3 linked regions of the Homo sapiens genome follow. The protein of the gene in region 1 purifies or fractionates together with the protein of each later gene. This does not show direct contact. Each region holds a gene or a part of one and is shown in the gene's direction. Other genes may lie near its edges.

Region 1 (7,077 bases):
CTGCAAACTGGACCTTCTGAGCTCAAGTGATTCTCCCACCTCAGCCTCCCGAGTAGCTGGAACCACCATGTCCGGCTACTTTTTTGTTTGTTTTGTAGAGACAGGGTCTGGTCATGTTGCCCAGGCTGGTCTCAAACTCTTGGGCTCAAGTGAAACAACTGCCTGTGCCTCCCAAAGTGCTAGGATTACAGGCATGAGCCACCGTGCCTGGCCCCAGATTTTTATAATTTTCATATTTTATTCTTTATTGATTAGTCACTGAGAGGGTAAGAATTGTGTAACTTCTTTCTTGTCCATATTTTCTCTTCAATTTTTACTGTGAAGGCCAACATAAAATATTTAAGGCAAACAGATTTTTTTTTTTTTTTTGAGATGGAGTCTCACTGTGTCACCCAGGCTGGAGTGCAGTGGCGCGATCTCGGCTTACTGCAACCTCCACCTTCCAGGTTCAAGCGATTCTCCTGCCTCAGCCTCCCGAGTACCTGGGACTACAGGTGCCTGCCACCGCGCCCGGCTAAGTTTTGTATTTTTAGTAGAGACGGGATTTCACCATCTTGGCCAGGCTGGTCTTGAATTTGTGACCTCGTGATCCACCTGTCTCGGCCCCCTAAAGTGCTGGGATTACAGGCATGAGCCACTGTGCCCGGTCCAGGCAAACAGATTTTATTCCACTTTTCCTTGATCACTCTTTTGTTTTTTCTCTCCAATGCTTTTTCTCTATTTGAAATTTTGCACTATTGTTGCTTTCTTCTGAAGTATTCATATAGAGTTGTTAAAACAACTGAAGTCAGACTGCCTAAGCTTTAGGTTTCTTCTCTGTTAAAAGAGATAACAAGATAATAATAGCACTCCTCATTTATAGGGTTACTTATGGGTGGTTATTGGCACACATTTATAAGTGTTTGAAAAAATCTTAGCTTTACTATTATTTTATAGATTTACTTGCATTTTTAATGTTCTTGGTATACACCAATTGGTTTGTTTACTTATTACCAAATATTTATAAAGCATTTAGTGTTATATTGTTGGCTGAAAAAACAGGAACAAAATAGGATGGTGTATATTTATGAAGCTTAACTCTAATTTAAGAAACAAAGCATTATTTTTTTTTTTCTTTGAGACGGAGTCTCACTGTGTTGCCCAGGCTGGAGTGCAGTGGCGCGATCTCAGCTCACTGCAATCTCCGCCTTCCAGGTTCAAGCGATTCTCCTGCCTCAGCCTCCCGAGTAGTTGGGACTACAGGCTCATGCCACCATGCCTGGCTAATTTTTTGTATTTTTAGTAGAGACAGCGTTTTACCATGTTAGCCAGTATGGTCTTGATCTCCTGACCTCGTGATCCGCCCACCTTAGCCTTCCAAAGTGCTGGGATTACAGCCGTAAGCCATCGTGCCTGGCCTTTTTTTTTTTTTTTTAATCTTTTTGAGATGGAGTTTCGCTCTTGTTGTCCAGGCTGGAGTGCAATGGTGTAATCTCCGCTCACTGCAACCTCCACCTCCTGGGTTCAAGAGATTCTCCTGCCTCAGCCTCCTGAGTAGCTGGGATTACAGGCATATGCCACCACACCCAGCTAATTTTGTATTTTTAGTAGAGACAGGGTTTCACCATGTTGGTCAGTCTGGTCTTGAACTCTTGGCCTCAGGCGATCCACCCGCCTCGGCTTCCCAAAGTGCTAGGATTACAGGCGTGATCCACTGCACCCGGACTTACTGGTTGCTTTTCAAAGGTTGTACAGATACTATAAATATATTTAACCAATACTCTATTGAGGAGGAGCCGGAGAGGGTTTCCAGTCTTTTGCTATTGTAAGCAATGCTTAAAAAAATACTCTGGAACATAGGTCATTGTAAGCAATGCTTCAAAAAATACTCTGGAACATAGGTCATTGTAAGCAATGCTTCAAAAAATACTCTGGAACATAGGTCATTATGTATATTTCTGTAAGATAAATTCCTAGAGGTAGGGTTACTGACTTCAAAGGATTTAGACTAAAGGTGCTTAAAGAGAGAGGTTTCACCTGTTAGTTAGTTTTTGTAGCCAAAACTTGAAAACATCCTTTCTTCCTCTTTTTTCGTACCTATCAATCACCAAGTCTTGCTGCTGTTACCTCCTCAATTTGTTTAAATCTGTCCTTCCTTCCCATTCCTCCCAGCCAACAACTCAATTTAGGCTTTTACTATTTCTTCATGTCTGAAATATCGTCCTCAAACCCATTGTCCTGAGAGAATAATCTGCTCGAACACATTCATGTTGCCTACTACATACATCCAGGATTAAGTCTAATGCCTTTGAATACACAAGGTTCACCTTGATCTAGTCCCTGTGCTTCCCTTTCTCTGGTAGACTTCTCCCATCACCAGCTTCACTCTCTTTGCTTTTACACTGTGGAATAATTCATCATTTCAGGCCTCCTTGCTTTTGCTCTGGCTGACTCTCCAGCTTGGAATGCCTTCATCCATTTCCCTTACTTCACCTTTGTGTTCCTGTGCATTCATCTTTCATAGTGATTGCTATTCTCTACTGAAATGAATTTTTTCAAAATAGCCTGCAATTGCAATAGGCAGTACTTTTTTTCTTTCTTTTTAGCTCTAGCATCTATCACAGTGCTTGTGGTCATGGGGTACATACTCAGTAAAATATCTTTTACTGAACTCAACTAGATCTTGGGGGAAAAGGGGTGGAGTCATTCATTCATTCATTCATTCATTCAACATATGTTTATTGAGAAGCTATAAACATAGGCACAAGGTTATGTGCTAGGTAGTGCGATTACAACCAAGAAGATAACCCAGGGCCTACTTTTGGTCTAGTGAAAGAGATGGAATTAGATGGGTATGGTGGTGTGCACCTGTAGTCCCAGCTACTTGGGAGGCTAAGGCATGAGAATCTCTTGAGGCTAGGAGGGAGAGGTTGCAGTGAGCTGTGATGGTAACACTGTACTCCAGCCTGGGTGACAGAAGAAGACCCTATCTAAAAAAAAAAAAAAAAAAAAAAAAAAAGTAGGGCAACATAAATACACAATTTTAATTTAGGTGGGTAAAGACAACAGTGGACCCCAGGGCACAGTTTAGATTATTTTATGGATATGGATAAACAGAGAAAAGGGTGGTTTTTTTTTTTTTTTTTAAATCTATTTTAGAGACTGGGTCTCACTGTGTTGCCCAGGCTGTTTTCAAACTTCTGAGCTCAAGTGATCCTCCCACATCAGCCTCTTGAGTAGATGGATGGCATTTTAATTAGATGAAATTGTACTAGGAAAGGCATTTGCAAAACAAAGTAATTGCCCCAAATCACTATGAAACCCTAAGTCAGGCATAAAACTCACGATTTCTGACCCTTCTTCATGGCCTATTGCCTCCTATTACCTTTACTTTTTCAAGTAAAGATATTCTTCTGGTAAACACATGGTCAAATACAGTGTCTTGGGTAACGAATAGTAAAGTGAGATAACATATGTAGAGAAAGCGGGTGAGAATCCGTACTCCATAAAAGTATTTTCTTTCCATAGGTGTCTGCTAAACTGCCATCTAAGTTTTCCAAAACAAAAAACAAAAACACTTGTGTGGTGCTCAATGATGTATATTAAGTGAAACCTACCAACTGACCTTTATCCTTTCCTTCCTGTTTTTTTAATATTAAAGAAGAGACCTCTTTTCACAAATGATTGAGGAGGCTAGTAAAATGCAGTGAAAAGAGCAAGTTCTTTGGGAGTCAGACAGCATCGGATCCAGCCCAGAGCGCAGCACGACTAGTAGAGTAACTTAGATTAAGTCCTTAAACTTCCAGTGTCCTCTTTTGTAAACTGGGAATAATAATAATAATAAATAAATAGTGAATAATATTTATGCAAAGTACTTAGCACAGTGTCTAACACATAAAAGCTTAGGAGAAGTTGGCTATTAAGCATTTCTAGGAACCCGAGGACTCAGGGTTGTTATTTTAGTTCTTGGAATCAAAGGAACTTGAAGCGTAGTCATTCCTAAACTAAGTTAAACCAGAACTAGCGCTTTCAGCAATGATGTAATTTGATCTCTTCGGGCCACCGTCGCTGAGCATGCGCAAATAAACGTGGCGGGACGTATGTGTCATGGCGCTCTCCATCTAAAGTCTGTGCAGCTTCCGGAGAGTGGCGGGTTGATTTTCTCACTTTGGACTGGTTTTTACTTCCCGACTTCTGGGTAAGGGTGGCCGATGGGTCCATGTGGGGCAGAGTGTGGCCACAGCTCCTTTTATGGCCAAGCCTTGTTTCTCCAGTTTCAGTTTTTCTTGGGCTGTTTGCAAATTTGTTTCGCAGTTAAAAGGGGATTTGCCAGCTGGGATGGGGGAATTGGGAGGCAGATGGGGCTTCCAGGAGCGAGGATAGGGTCGTTGGCCTCAGGTGCCGCTCTCCAGTTAGGAGTATTTTAGGCACCTCGTTCCTTATTGTCAGGTTTAACTTCATTTGTTCTCCCACTTTATACCTTAGTGAATTTGTAGATGTGACAAGGCTTTCGCAGTTATATAGCTTTCCCAGATCAGTATGTTAAGAATTTAAGCAGAAGTTATTGAGAAAAGCAGGTGTCTTGCTTTTTCACTTTTCGTTCTTCTTTGCTCATAAAACCTTTTTCTGAATCTCGGGACGACAGTTATCTTTCGGATGGAACGTGATCTGGATGTCTATCTACCTTATTGACTTAATCCTGTTTTGTAGTGGTTGGTTACTCGCACTATGCAGACGTGTTGCGGTGCTGAATACAACATTTATTACTAAAGCCAGACACTGGATCACCGTCACGGCAGATGTCAGCACACCTGTTGTAATCAGTAAGAAGTTACAAGTAGTATGGAGCATCATTAATCCTGCTGTATAAAGCAGTCTTTTATGGAGTCTGATTCCTTTTAAGTAAAGAATCCTTACAGTGGTTTTGTGAACTTTTTGGGTGCTTACTTTTCCTAATCAATTTTTATTTTCCAGACTCATCTTTCAAGAGGACTTTAGACTAATTGCAGATAATTAAGGTACTGATTTATTTTAAACCTTTTATGTTTGAGTGCTGTGCGTATTTCTGCATGTTAGAAAATGCAGAGAGGTAGCCTAATGTTTTAGCTATTTGCCACTATCATGTTATGGAAACATTGTGCTTTACATAGCATTAAATCGAAGAGATATTTTCATTTATTTTACTTAACCTTTCATTTTCATTCACCAGCATTGACCATGTCCACTTTTTTGAGATGCCCTTTTCATTTGCCTTCCATGGCCCATGGATTTTTTTCCTTGTCTGGTGGCTGCTTCTTGGAATCCATTATAAGCTGATTTTCCTTTATCTGGCAGTTAAATTTGGAGTCTCTCAAGTCGTGGTCTTGTACCTTCTCCTACCTCTGTTCTCTTTTTCTTCCCCTCTGGGTGATGTAATCCACATGCCTGTCAACAGTTATTTGTCTTTTTGATTCTACCCATCCTAATGGGTATGAAGTGGTGTATTATTGTGGTTTGGATTTCCATTTCCCTGATGGCTCATGATGTTGACATCTTTTCATGTGCTTATCAGCCATTTGTATGTGTGTGTTTTTGAGACACGGCTTCCCTATGCCACCCAGGCCAGAGTGCAGTGGCTCGATTACGGCTCACTGCAGCCTTGACCACCTGGTCTCAAGTGATCCCACTTCAGCCTCCCAAGTAGCTGGGACTACAGGTGCATGCCACCATGCCCGGCTAAATTTTACTTTTTTTTTTTTTTTTGTAGCGATAGGGTCCGTGTTGCCTAGGCTCTGGCCTTGTACTCCTGGCCTGAAGTGATCCTGCCACCTTGGCTTCCCAGTGTTGGGATTATAGGCATGAGCCTCTGCACCTGGCCCATTTCTGTATCTTCTTCATCTAATCTGTTTTTCCTTTTGTTGCTTGTGCTTTTCATTTCTTAGCTAAGAAAGAAGGGCCTACTCTAACATCATAAAGATTTGTGCTTATGTTTTTTTCTAAGAGTTTCATAATGTTAGCTCCTAAATTTAGGTCTATGATCCATTTTCGGTTAATTTTTGTATATGATGTGAAATGTGAAATAGGGCTCCAACTTTATTTTTTACATGTTGCTATCCAGTTATCCCAGTGTCATTTGTTGAAAAAAAAACTACGCTTTCCCCCTTGAATTGTCTAGGTTATGTATATTTGACATACATTCTAGGTGGTTTTTATGAAAGAATAATTCTGGGACAGTGATTATCAAACTTTAATTCAGATCAAAATCACCTAGAGGGCCTGTTAAATATTGCTAGGTTTTACTCAAAATATCTGATTTAGTATGTCTGGAGTGGAGTTCAAGAATTTTCATTTCTGGCTGGGCATGGTGGCTCATGCCTGTAATCCCATACTTTAGGGGCCAAGATGGGAGGAGTTTGAGACCAGCCTGGACAACAAAGCGAGACCTTGTTTTTACAAAAAAACTGAAAAAGAAAAAATGTTCATTTCTAACAAGTTCCCCATGATGCTACTCCAGCTGATGTGGAAACTACACTTTGAAAACCACTGGACATTGCTTTGCAACTGTGGCTGTACACACATGAGAATGACTGGAAAGTTTTTAAAAGATATTGATGCCCAGGCTCCATTCTCAGAGATTCATTCAGCTATCTTGGGGCTTAGTTGGGAATTTTCTTTTTTTTCTTTTGTTTTTGTTTTTGTTTTGAGACAGAGTCTCGCTCTGTCGCCCAGGCTGGAGTGCAGTGGCGTGATCTCGGCTCACTGCAAGCTTAGTTGGGAATTTTCAAAAGCTCTTCAGGTGAATAGAATGAGTGTTGAAGATTGAGAACCATTACTGTGGAATCGTGGTTCTTAATTAGGGATCTATAGTGGAATTACCTGGACAGTTTCTATGTTCACATACTTCAGTTCTACTCTTGGAGATTCTAATTCAGAATGGAACCTGGAGATTTGATATGATGAAAAGCTTCCCGCTGGGTGCAGTGGCTCACGCCTGTAATCCCAGCACTTTGGGAGGCCAAGGCAGGTGGATCACCTGAGGTTGGGAGTTCAAGACCAGCCTGACCAACATGGTGAAACCCCGTCTCTACTAAAAATACAAAATTAGCTGGGCGTGGTGGC
Region 2 (6,998 bases), on another chromosome or scaffold:
GCATAACCAGAATCTGGGGAGATACGTGTGTCTGCCCCTCCCTTCGGCACCTGGAGCCAATGTCTTCTGAATGCCAAGCCCTGATCCAGGAGTCTGAGAAGTTATTCTGCCCTCCTGAGCCTCAGCATGCTCATTGGAAAAATGCACGTGGGAATCCACGAAACTCAGAAGGAAAACTGGCTGTGGGGGTTTAGATGAAATGATAACTGCAGCCTAGCTGAGCTCAGAGCACCCCCACCCCTGCCCCAGGGCCTGGAGTTCCCTGGACCCCTTGGAGAGCTTACATGGCCGGATGGGTGGTTCCATCCCTCACACCACTCCAAGATTCAGGGGGCTCAGGGGGTGCAAATCGCAGCGGACCTAGAGGTGGCTTGGCAAATGGAATTCCCAGGAAGGTTTGGACCCCGGCATTGGCGCCCTTCACATGGACAAGACTCCCCAGCACCTGCCCCGTGTGTGTGGTCCGGATGGGACTGGCTGAGTCCTGGCCTGTGGGCAGAGAGACAGACATCACGGTTGGGTTTGACCAATCGACTGCCCTCCCAACTGTTGGTATTGCTGCTTCCTTGCCATCCTCATCTTAGCTCAAGGGACTCTGATCTGTAAACATGGGCTTTACAAACTTCCTGCCTGTAACACTCCCTTCCCGCTCTGGCTTCCTGGGCCTGTCTCCATCCCACCAGGCTGAGGCTCCTTGGGGCCAGGCATCATCATTCAGCCCTAGGACCTTCAAACAAAGGGTCACATGCCCTTGATGGGACTAGAGTGTCCTTCAACTGTGTGCCAGGTCATGTGACAGTAGGATGATGGTGGGAATTGGGCAGGCAAGTTTCTTGTCCTCAGGGATGTCATGTCCAAAGTGGCAAGAAATCATGTAAAGAAAGCATCATCCAAACCATGAGTGATGTTGGTGAAAAGAGGTGCAAGAGAAAAGTATGGCTGTGGCTGGGATATAAAAAGCACAGTGACTGGCCTGGGGACCATAGTGGGACTCTGTCTCTGCAAAAAAATCAGGAAATAAATTGGCGGGGTGTGGTGGTGCATGCCTGTAGTCCCAGCTGTAGAAAAGCCTGGCTCCAGAAAGTGGGTGAGTTTATGACTGTTTAGATGAAAATCAAGGACAAGTGCACACATCTATTCTTGTGTAAACTGCTGGGCACTGTGTGTACTGCGGTGTCAACAAGCAGTTTCCAGTGTGGGCCATGGGGACTTTGATGGCCCCTGAGGAGAAGCCAGGACTGGTTGGGTAAAAAGAGGATGGCACACATCACCTGTACCCTCCTATGGCTTGTCAATTATTTTTTCTGAATGTGGGTCCAACCCAAAATTTTGTATACATATATATTTGTCAGACAAGGTCGCCATCTGTTGCCCAGGCTGGAATGCAGTAATATGATAACAGCTCACTGCAGCCTCCACCTCCTGGGCTTGAGATCCTCCCGCCACAGCCTCCTGAGTAGCTTGGAGTACAGCTGTCTGCCACCATGCTTGACTTTTTTTTTTTTTTTTTTTGGTAGAGACAAGTCTTGTTGCCCAAGCTGGTCTCTAACTCCTAGCCTCAAGTGATCCTCCCATCTCTGCCTCTCAAAGTGCTGGGATAACAGGTGTGAGCCACTGTGCCTGGCCCAAAATATTTTAAAAGGTAGCCATCTGTGAGGCCAGGCAGATCTTCCTGCTGGGCTCCTGGTGAACTCTAGAATGTGGTCAAGGGCAGGCACGGGAGGAAGCCCTGCAGCAGTGCACCATGGGGCGGGGGGAGTATGGACTCCACCTGCGCAAATTAAATTGGGGAAGGGTTGGAAGAGACAGATCATACACTTAGGAGAGTTTCGGGTGAGAGGACCAAAGGCCGAAACACTCCCCCAGCTTCTGATAAGGGCCTGGAGAAGCCTGGCAGGCACACAGAGCCTTCACCTTTGCCCTGGAAGCCAAGTTGTGCCCTTGCCCAGGATGAGGTAAATGGCATGAGGGACACCACGAGCTCTTTGGTTCTTGTTTCTGGAGACAGATTTTTGCTTTTTCACCCAGGCTGGAGTGCAGTAGTGGGATGAAGGCTCACTGCAGCCTCAACCTCCCCTACTAAAGTGATCTCCCACCTCAGCCTCCCAAGTAGCTGGGACTACAGGTCACAGACCACCACAGCCCACTAATTTCTTTCAATTTTTTGTACACTCCGAGTCTCACTATGTTGTCCAGGCTGGCCTCCAACTCCTGGGCACAAGCGATACTCTCCCTTGGCCTTCTAAAGTGGTGGGATTAAAGGAGTGAGCCAATCGCACCCAGCCACTGTGGCCTCTTAGATCTGCTTTAGGATTTGGCGCCTGGGGGCTTCTGTTCCCCAAGGACCACTATCCTTGTCTGAGGCCCCTTTGGAGGGCTCAGGGCATCCCCCCTGGCCAAGGACGCCACACACTGAGAGCCAGATGCTGCCAGAAGCTATTACTGTTATTACCGGCCGGCAGCACCCGCTACAGCCACAATCATAAGAGGGAAATGGACTGAATCCCCACACCCCAATCCCTCACCCACTCCGACCCCAGGCTGCCTACCCGGCCTGGCATGTCCCGGCGCTCCTGGGGCCCCTGTACTCCGCTGGTTCCTTGCCGTGGTGTCCCCCAGCCCGACCCTTTCTGTGCTTCTAGGAGCCCACCTTGGGCGGCGGGGAGGCGTTGCGTGGGGCTCACGAGTTCCACGCTGTCATCTCCACCAGCTCCTACCTCCCAGGCGCCTGCCCTCCCGCACTGTCAGGTTCTGCCTCCGCAGCATTTGGCAGATCTGAGCCCGGTCCCTGTCGCCCCTCCGAGGGAGCCTCACCCTGGCCCCGGACAAGAAGCAGCAGAAGCCCACAGGCCACCGCGCTCAGCCGCGCACGAAGTCTGTGCAGCCGCATGGTCGGCTCGCTGGTCTCGGTTCGCTGCCGGCGGACACGCTGCTGTTCACCCAGAGGCTGCCCCGGGTCTGTCCAGCAGTGGATCAGTGCCTTGCCCAGCCTTGGAGTTTGGACTGGGCAGGGAGTCAGCGGGGTGCGCTGGCTTGGGCCGGGAAAGGTGGGTGTGGTAGGAGAGCGGGACTGAGCAGTCATAGGTGGGTGGGGATCTAGTGGTAGGCAGGCCCGGGCACGGCCACTTTCCTTTGCCCGGGCTCCTTTGGCATCCTCGGAAGGGGCTGTGCCATTCCTGCAGCCCTTCCGCGATCCAGGGAATCCTCTCTTCAAACCTGTCCTTGTCCACAGGCCCGATGAGCGCGCTGGGGGATCGATAGGAGGGGGCAATAAACTAGAATTGGAGACCCCAGGAGGGCTTCTCTGAGGATGTGCACGTTCAGGATCCCCCAGATGGAGAAATGGGAAGGAACTTGATCGGGGTGAAGGAACCGCTTGAGCAAAGGCAGGAAGGAGTGTCGGCGCCCTTCATTCTGGAAGTTCCTCCTTGCTTTCAGGACTCAGTTTCCTGGGTTCCCCTTCACGGCCCCTCATCTCCTTACAGTCCAGGGTCTGAGGGTCTCCGCGGTCCCCTCCCTACTCAGTCACGCCATTCTTTTGAAACGTACACGTGACCGCGGCACTTCTTAAGGAGCGCCCCCCTTTTCCTCGGTGGCTTTCAGTTTCCTCACCTCCCGCGGAGACCACGGCCATGGTCATTTATCCACTTGACAAACATTTCACGAGCCCCTGCCGGTCCAAGCTGTGGGGACGCCGTACTCCCGGGCCTATGGTGCAGCAGGGGAGGCAGGCGCGTCACCGGGAGGTCCCGAGACACTAGGATCCCTGCCAGGCCAGAGGCGACCAACCGTCCTGGATACGGGAGCTCCCGGCCAGCCTGACTTCCAGGAGGAAGCGGTGTGGGGATTACCTCCGACCGCCTTTAGTGCCCCCTGAGACCTGGTTCTGGCCTCTACGTTTCAGCCCGCTACTGGCTCGCACGACCCAGCGCCGCCGTGGTCCCTTCTCAGCGCCTTCTGCTCCAGCGACCATCATGTTCCCGGGTCCGAGCAGCCAGGGCCGCGGTCACCGCTTCTCTCGCACCTCAGGCCGAGAACCCACAACGCGGCGTGTCCCTCGCGCGACTCCGTCGCCACGCCACGCCCCCTTCCCGTTCTCCGGAAGTGCGCGGGTTGGAGCGGAAGCGCACGCCTGCTAGGATCAGCGGTGGTGGTTCCGCGATGGTAGGCGGCGGCGGGGTCGGCGGCGGCCTCCTGGAGAATGCCAACCCCCTCATCTACCAGCGCTCTGGGGAGCGGCCTGTGACGGCAGGCGAGGAGGACGAGCAGGTTCCCGACAGCATCGACGCACGCGAGATCTTCGATATCCGCCGCTGCTGGGCGCGGGCGGGTTCCGGGGGCTTGCGGTGGGGGGAGCAGTGATATCGAGCAGCTGGTGGAGCCGCATCCCAGCAGGGCGTTCCTGGCAGAGGGTTCTAAGTGGGCAAGGGCGCAGAGTCCCTTTTCCTTCACTTCCCACATCTGATTCGCTCCATCAATGACCCGGAGCATCCACTGACGCTAGAGGAGTTGAACGTAGTAGAGCAGGTGCGGGTTCAGGTGAGTCACTTCCGAGGGGAGCGAGTTGTTCCAGAGAGTCAGAAAGGTTTCTGTGCAGCAGGAGCTGGCGTGCTCTATGCTCACGAACACCGAAGGGTATCTTTGGGGAGGGAGATTGTTGTGCCTATTTTATGGGTGTTGAAACTGAGGCCCATAGAAGTTGGATGATTTGCCCAAAACAACAAACTAAGAAGAGGGACCTTGGGCTGAGGGTGGTTGACTCTTGACATCTCTCCTCCACAACCAGGTTAGCGACCCCGAGAGTACAGTGGCTGTGGCTTTCACACCAACCATTCCGCACTGCAGCATGGCCACCCTTATTGGTCTGTCCATCAAGGTCAAGCTTCTGCGCTCCCTTCCTCAGCGTTTCAAGGTCAGTTGGAGCTGAGCCCCGGGAGTGAGACCAGGCATTGAGGGTCTACTGCTGAGGATGGGGACTGGGAGAGCATGAACATGGATAGGACATCAGAGTGGGGCCTGGAAGGATCCCCATTAGCAGAGAGGAAACTGGGAGGAAGCTTTCCAAGTCGATGTGACAAGAATAAAGATCTGAGCTGGAAAGTGGAGAAAAGTATTGAAGAGTGTGGCAGGAAGGGCAGTAGGGAGCGGCAGATGGGTTTGGACCAGGGGTGGGGCACAGGCAGGCCTTTAAATCAACAGTAGTGGGCCAGTTCTTTGGATAGAATTGGAATAGCTAGGGCCGGGCGCGGTGGCTCACGCCTGTAATCCCAGCACTTTGGGAGGCTGAGGCGGGTGGATCATCTGAGGTTAGGAGTTGGAGACCAGCCTGGCCAACATGGTGAAATCTCATCTCTACTAAAAATACAAAAATTAGTGGGGCGTGGTGGTGTGTGCCTGTGGTCCCAGCTACACGGGTGGCTGAGGAAGGAGAATCAAATTGAACCTGGGAGACAGAGGTTGCAGTGAGCCGAGATTGCGCTGCTGCACTCCAGCCTGGGCAACAGAGCAAGACTCAGTCTTGGAAAAAAAAAAAGAATTGGAATACCTGTGGATGGGTTTGGGGTGTAACGGAAGGGCCAGAGTCCAAAGGCATGATTAGGAGGAAGGATCAGCTGGAGATGGTGCCTGAGGGTCTGGGGGCTGCAGGGAAAAGTGTGGGTCGGTGGGTGGGTGTTCAGGCCCTGGTTATCTCCCTCCCAGATGGACGTGCACATTACTCCGGGGACCCATGCCTCAGAGCATGCAGGTAAGTGTGGACTGGTGGTGAGGGTGTTGGCCCGGGCACCCCCTAAGCAGTCTGAGGCTTCCCCCTTGCACAGGAGTCTATGGGCAAGACTGGAGATGGGTAACTGTGTGAGTGAAATTGCCAGAGACTCCTCAGTATGGGTTATAGCCTAGACCGAAGCTGGCCTGAGAAGACTCTCCTTTGCTTACCATGTCCTCTTCTCCCAAATCCCCTCTCACCAAATATACAGGACCAGAGTGTGTCAGGCTTCAGCAGCGCAGGAGGCAGCCAGGGGGAGGGATCCTAAGAAGGCAGATTAGGTGGGCTCAGGTGGTTGAAGTAGCCTGATCAATATGTGGGGTCCTGGGAAGGAGGTGACAGGAGGGCTCTGTTGCTGCGGGGGACATATCCTATATAGAGGTTCAGAGGTAGGGCTGGCTAGCACTCTGGCCAGAGCCTAGCTTTGACTCTGCCTTCCCCACACCCTTCTTCCCACCTAGTGAACAAGCAACTTGCAGATAAGGAGCGGGTGGCAGCTGCCCTGGAGAACACCCACCTCTTGGAGGTTGTGAATCAGTGCCTGTCAGCCCGCTCCTGAGCCTGGCCTTTGACCCCTCAGCCTGCATACTGGTATCCTGGTCCCAGCTCCTGCCAGGGCTGTTACCGTTGTTTTCTTGAATCACTCACAATGAGAAACTAACATTTTGCTTTTTGTAATAAAGTTAATTTATATTCAGTTCCCAGCATGCCTTGGTGTCTTTCATCTTGGTGGAGTCATTTGGAGTTTGAGGGGGGGATGGTGGTAGTAAGTGCCTCTAAAGGGTGGTGTACTTGCAACTTTTCGTAAAATAAAATCAAAATGGAAAGAGTAGTGTACGAATGTGCCTGTATGCTCACCACCACCAGTAGAGTCAACAGTTGTTGACATATTGCAACACTGGCCATATTTATGTGTGCATATATAAATATCAGTAAGTAAGCTGCAGAGACTTGACTCTTCACTTTGAAGTACTGCAGCTCCTATAGTCAATATAAGCCTGTATAGCCACAATACTTTTATCTGATCAGAAAATGAACAGTTCCTCAACACCATCTAATACCCAGGCATATCTGGATTTCCCTAATGTGTCATCATAGTTGTTTTTGTTTTGTTTTTGAGACAAGGTCTTACCCTGTTGCCCAGGCCCAGGTGCAGTGGCAAGATTGTAGCTCACTGCAGCCTCCAACTCCTGGGTTCAAGCAATCCTCCAGCCTTGGCCTCCCAAGTAGCTTG
Region 3 (2,636 bases), on another chromosome or scaffold:
ATGTTTGTATTTTTTGTAAGAACTGGGTTTGGCCATGTTGCCCAGACTCCTAGACTCAAGCAGTCCACCTGCCTTGGCCTCCCAAAGTGCTAGGATTACAGGCATGAGCCACCACACCCGGCCCCATCCTTATCTTTGGCACTTAAGATTCTTCTTCCCTGATGTACCTCAAAGGCTCTTTTTTCTCCAGCTCATGGGCCTCCTGAGTGACCCAGAATTAGGTCCAGCAGCAGCTGATGGCTTCTCTCTGCTCATGTCTGACTGCACTGATGTGCTGACTCGTGCTGGCCATGCCGAAGTGCGGATCATGTTCCGCCAGCGGTTCTTCACAGATAATGTGCCTGCTTTGGTCCAGGGCTTCCATGCTGCTCCCCAAGGTGAGGAGTCTGAAAGAAGGTCCCCACATATACACATCTCTCCTTTGCTTGGCCACATTCCCTAAGATAATTTAGGGCCCGCTTGCTTCTTTAGAGCTATATTGTGGTCTGTGCCTAGAAGACTAAACTTCTAGATTCTTGTCCCACTTCTTCCTTTCATGGGCGTATCTTGCTTATTCTGAGCGTGAAGGGCTCTTTCACCCGTTTGTAGGCTGATGTCTCAGCCTCACCACAGATTGGAATTGATTTCTCAAGCTATATATCTAAGTCCAATTTCTCCCCTAAGCCTTTCCATTTTTTACAGATGTGAAGCCAAACTACTTGAAGGGTCTTTCTCATGTACTTAACAGGCTGCCCAAGCCTGTACTCTTGCCAGAGCTGCCCACGGTAAGTCCCACAGGCAGAGCTTCTAAGCAAAGGACAAAGCTATTCTTCCCCAGATGGGGCTAGAAAGGGGAGGGAACAAGAACCAGGATCTTCATGATGTGGCCATCCCCTACCTTGCCCATTGCCCCTTAGCTTCTTTCCTTGCTGCTGGAGGCCCTGTCCTGCCCTGACTGTGTGGTGCAGCTCTCCACCCTCAGCTGCCTTCAGCCTCTTCTACTGGAAGCACCCCAAGTCATGAGTCTTCACGTGGACACCCTCGTCACCAAGTTTCTGAACCTCAGCTCTAGCCCTTCCATGGTGCGTTGAGCCCCAGCAACTCTTAGGCACCAGCATCTCTCCCTGGGCATGCTCTCACCTCCTTGTGGTTGTGTTCCAGGCTGTCCGGATCGCCGCACTGCAGTGCATGCATGCTCTCACTCGCCTGCCCACCCCTGTGGTAAGTACCTCAGGTGTCCTTCCCTGGCCTGGGAACATCTCAAGAGACACATAAGTACCTTTTTGCCTTAGTCAGGTGGGCTTGGCCACCCTGGTGTGTAATTGAGATCTGAATTACAAGGTACAGATCTTGTAATTCTGGGCCCAAGGATTCTTTTCCTTGGGCCCAGAAGGTAACAGAAAGGCCATCCTGCCACTTAACATCCCTTGGAATCACTAAAGATGTTTTGCTTTCCTCAGAATATTAGTTGTACAGAATCAAAAAAGCGGTACTTTCAGTTGCCTTGGATGAGCAAGGTTGATTATATCCTCTGACTCCACAGCTGCTGCCGTACAAACCACAGGTGATTCGGGCCTTAGCCAAACCCCTGGATGACAAGAAGAGACTGGTGCGCAAGGAAGCAGTGTCAGCCAGAGGGGAGTGGTGAGTTTCTAGGTCGTGGGGAGAGATGGGACCAAGATGAGCCTCATCACTAATGCTGCCAACTTTCTTTTTGCCTACAGGTTTCTGTTGGGGAGCCCTGGCAGCTGAGCCCTCAGTCCTGGCCTAGACTGTTCTGACAATCTAACCTGGGATTACTAACTGTTGAGCCATCTTCCCCAAAGCAGGGAAACCACTGGTCTCTGACTGCCTTTCCCACAGACACAGCACAAATGCTAGGCCTCTGTTGCATGGCTGTACAAAGAACATAAGAGTCCATATTTCTAGTGGATTTGTAAAATAAGTGTGTGTGAGACACTTGCGTTTGAAGAAAGATCTAGGGTCCTGGGTCTCTTGCATTTATATGTCAGAAAAGGGGCGATATGCTGCTGAGGGGTGAGTGCATATGAGTGTGGCCCTGAGGACCAGGGCTGGCAGATGTTGTCTACCTGCTGAAGAATAAAGATTTCTTTTGGTAATGGGGCTGTCAGATATTTCCCCCACCCCACATATGCCTCATATAACCAGAGGCATCACTGGAATAACAATGACAGGGATTGGCCAAAAATTTTTCAGGGTAACCAGGACAGTAGCACATGCCTGTAACCCCAACACTTCAGGAGGCTGAGGCAGGCGGATCACTTGAGGCTAGGAGTTTGAGACTAGCCCTGGCAGTATAGCAAGAACCCATCTCTACAAATAATTAAAAAAAAAAAAAAATTAAGCTGGGCATGGTGGCTGACGCCTGTAATCCCAGCATTTTGGGAGGCCGAGGCGCATGGATCAGTGGAGGTCAGGAGTTCAAGACCAGACTGGCCAACATGGTGAAACCCCATCTCCACTAAAAATACAAAAATTAGCCAGGTGTGGTGGCATACGCCTTTAATCACAGCTACTTGGGAGGCTGAGACACAAGAATCACTTGAGCCGGGCGCGGTGGCTCACGCCTGTAAAGCTTGTAATCCCAGCACTTTGGGAGGCCGAGGCGGATGGATCACAAGGTCATGACATCGAGA

Evidence for each region. The genes of interacting proteins can lie anywhere in the genome.
Region 2: the proteins of CDKAL1 (region 1) and CIAO2B purify together in Homo sapiens (affinity purification with mass spectrometry; 3 studies listed by BioGRID and IntAct, with this or other methods). This does not show direct contact.
Region 3: the proteins of CDKAL1 (region 1) and MMS19 purify together in Homo sapiens (affinity purification with mass spectrometry; 5 studies listed by BioGRID and IntAct, with this or other methods). This does not show direct contact.

Annotation. Positions count from the first base shown.
Region 1 is NC_000006.12:20,530,398-20,537,474, forward strand, and holds the start of CDKAL1 (threonylcarbamoyladenosine tRNA methylthiotransferase), read left to right. Parts: upstream 1-4,059; 5' UTR 4,060-4,177; intron 4,178-4,183; exon of another isoform or gene 4,184-4,802; intron 4,803-4,953; 5' UTR 4,954-4,997; intron 4,998-7,077. UniProt on the Homo sapiens protein: Catalyzes the methylthiolation of N6-threonylcarbamoyladenosine (t(6)A), leading to the formation of 2-methylthio-N6-threonylcarbamoyladenosine (ms(2)t(6)A) at position 37 in tRNAs that read codons beginning with adenine.
Region 2 is NC_000016.10:66,931,528-66,938,525, reverse strand, and holds CIAO2B (cytosolic iron-sulfur assembly component 2B), read left to right. Parts: upstream 1-4,123; 5' UTR 4,124-4,161; coding exon 4,162-4,303; exon of another isoform or gene 4,304-4,459; coding exon 4,460-4,539; intron 4,540-4,786; coding exon 4,787-4,912; intron 4,913-5,700; coding exon 5,701-5,746; intron 5,747-6,225; coding exon 6,226-6,323; 3' UTR 6,324-6,461; downstream 6,462-6,998. Other genes in the region: CES2 (cocaine esterase isoform 1 precursor), read right to left, coding at 285-489, 2,815-2,890.
Region 3 is NC_000010.11:97,457,787-97,460,422, reverse strand, and holds the end of MMS19 (MMS19 nucleotide excision repair protein homolog), read left to right. Parts: intron 1-190; coding exon 191-377; intron 378-681; coding exon 682-764; intron 765-896; coding exon 897-1,061; intron 1,062-1,140; coding exon 1,141-1,200; intron 1,201-1,522; coding exon 1,523-1,623; intron 1,624-1,703; coding exon 1,704-1,731; 3' UTR 1,732-2,099; downstream 2,100-2,636. UniProt on the Homo sapiens protein: Key component of the cytosolic iron-sulfur protein assembly (CIA) complex, a multiprotein complex that mediates the incorporation of iron-sulfur cluster into apoproteins specifically involved in DNA metabolism and genomic integrity.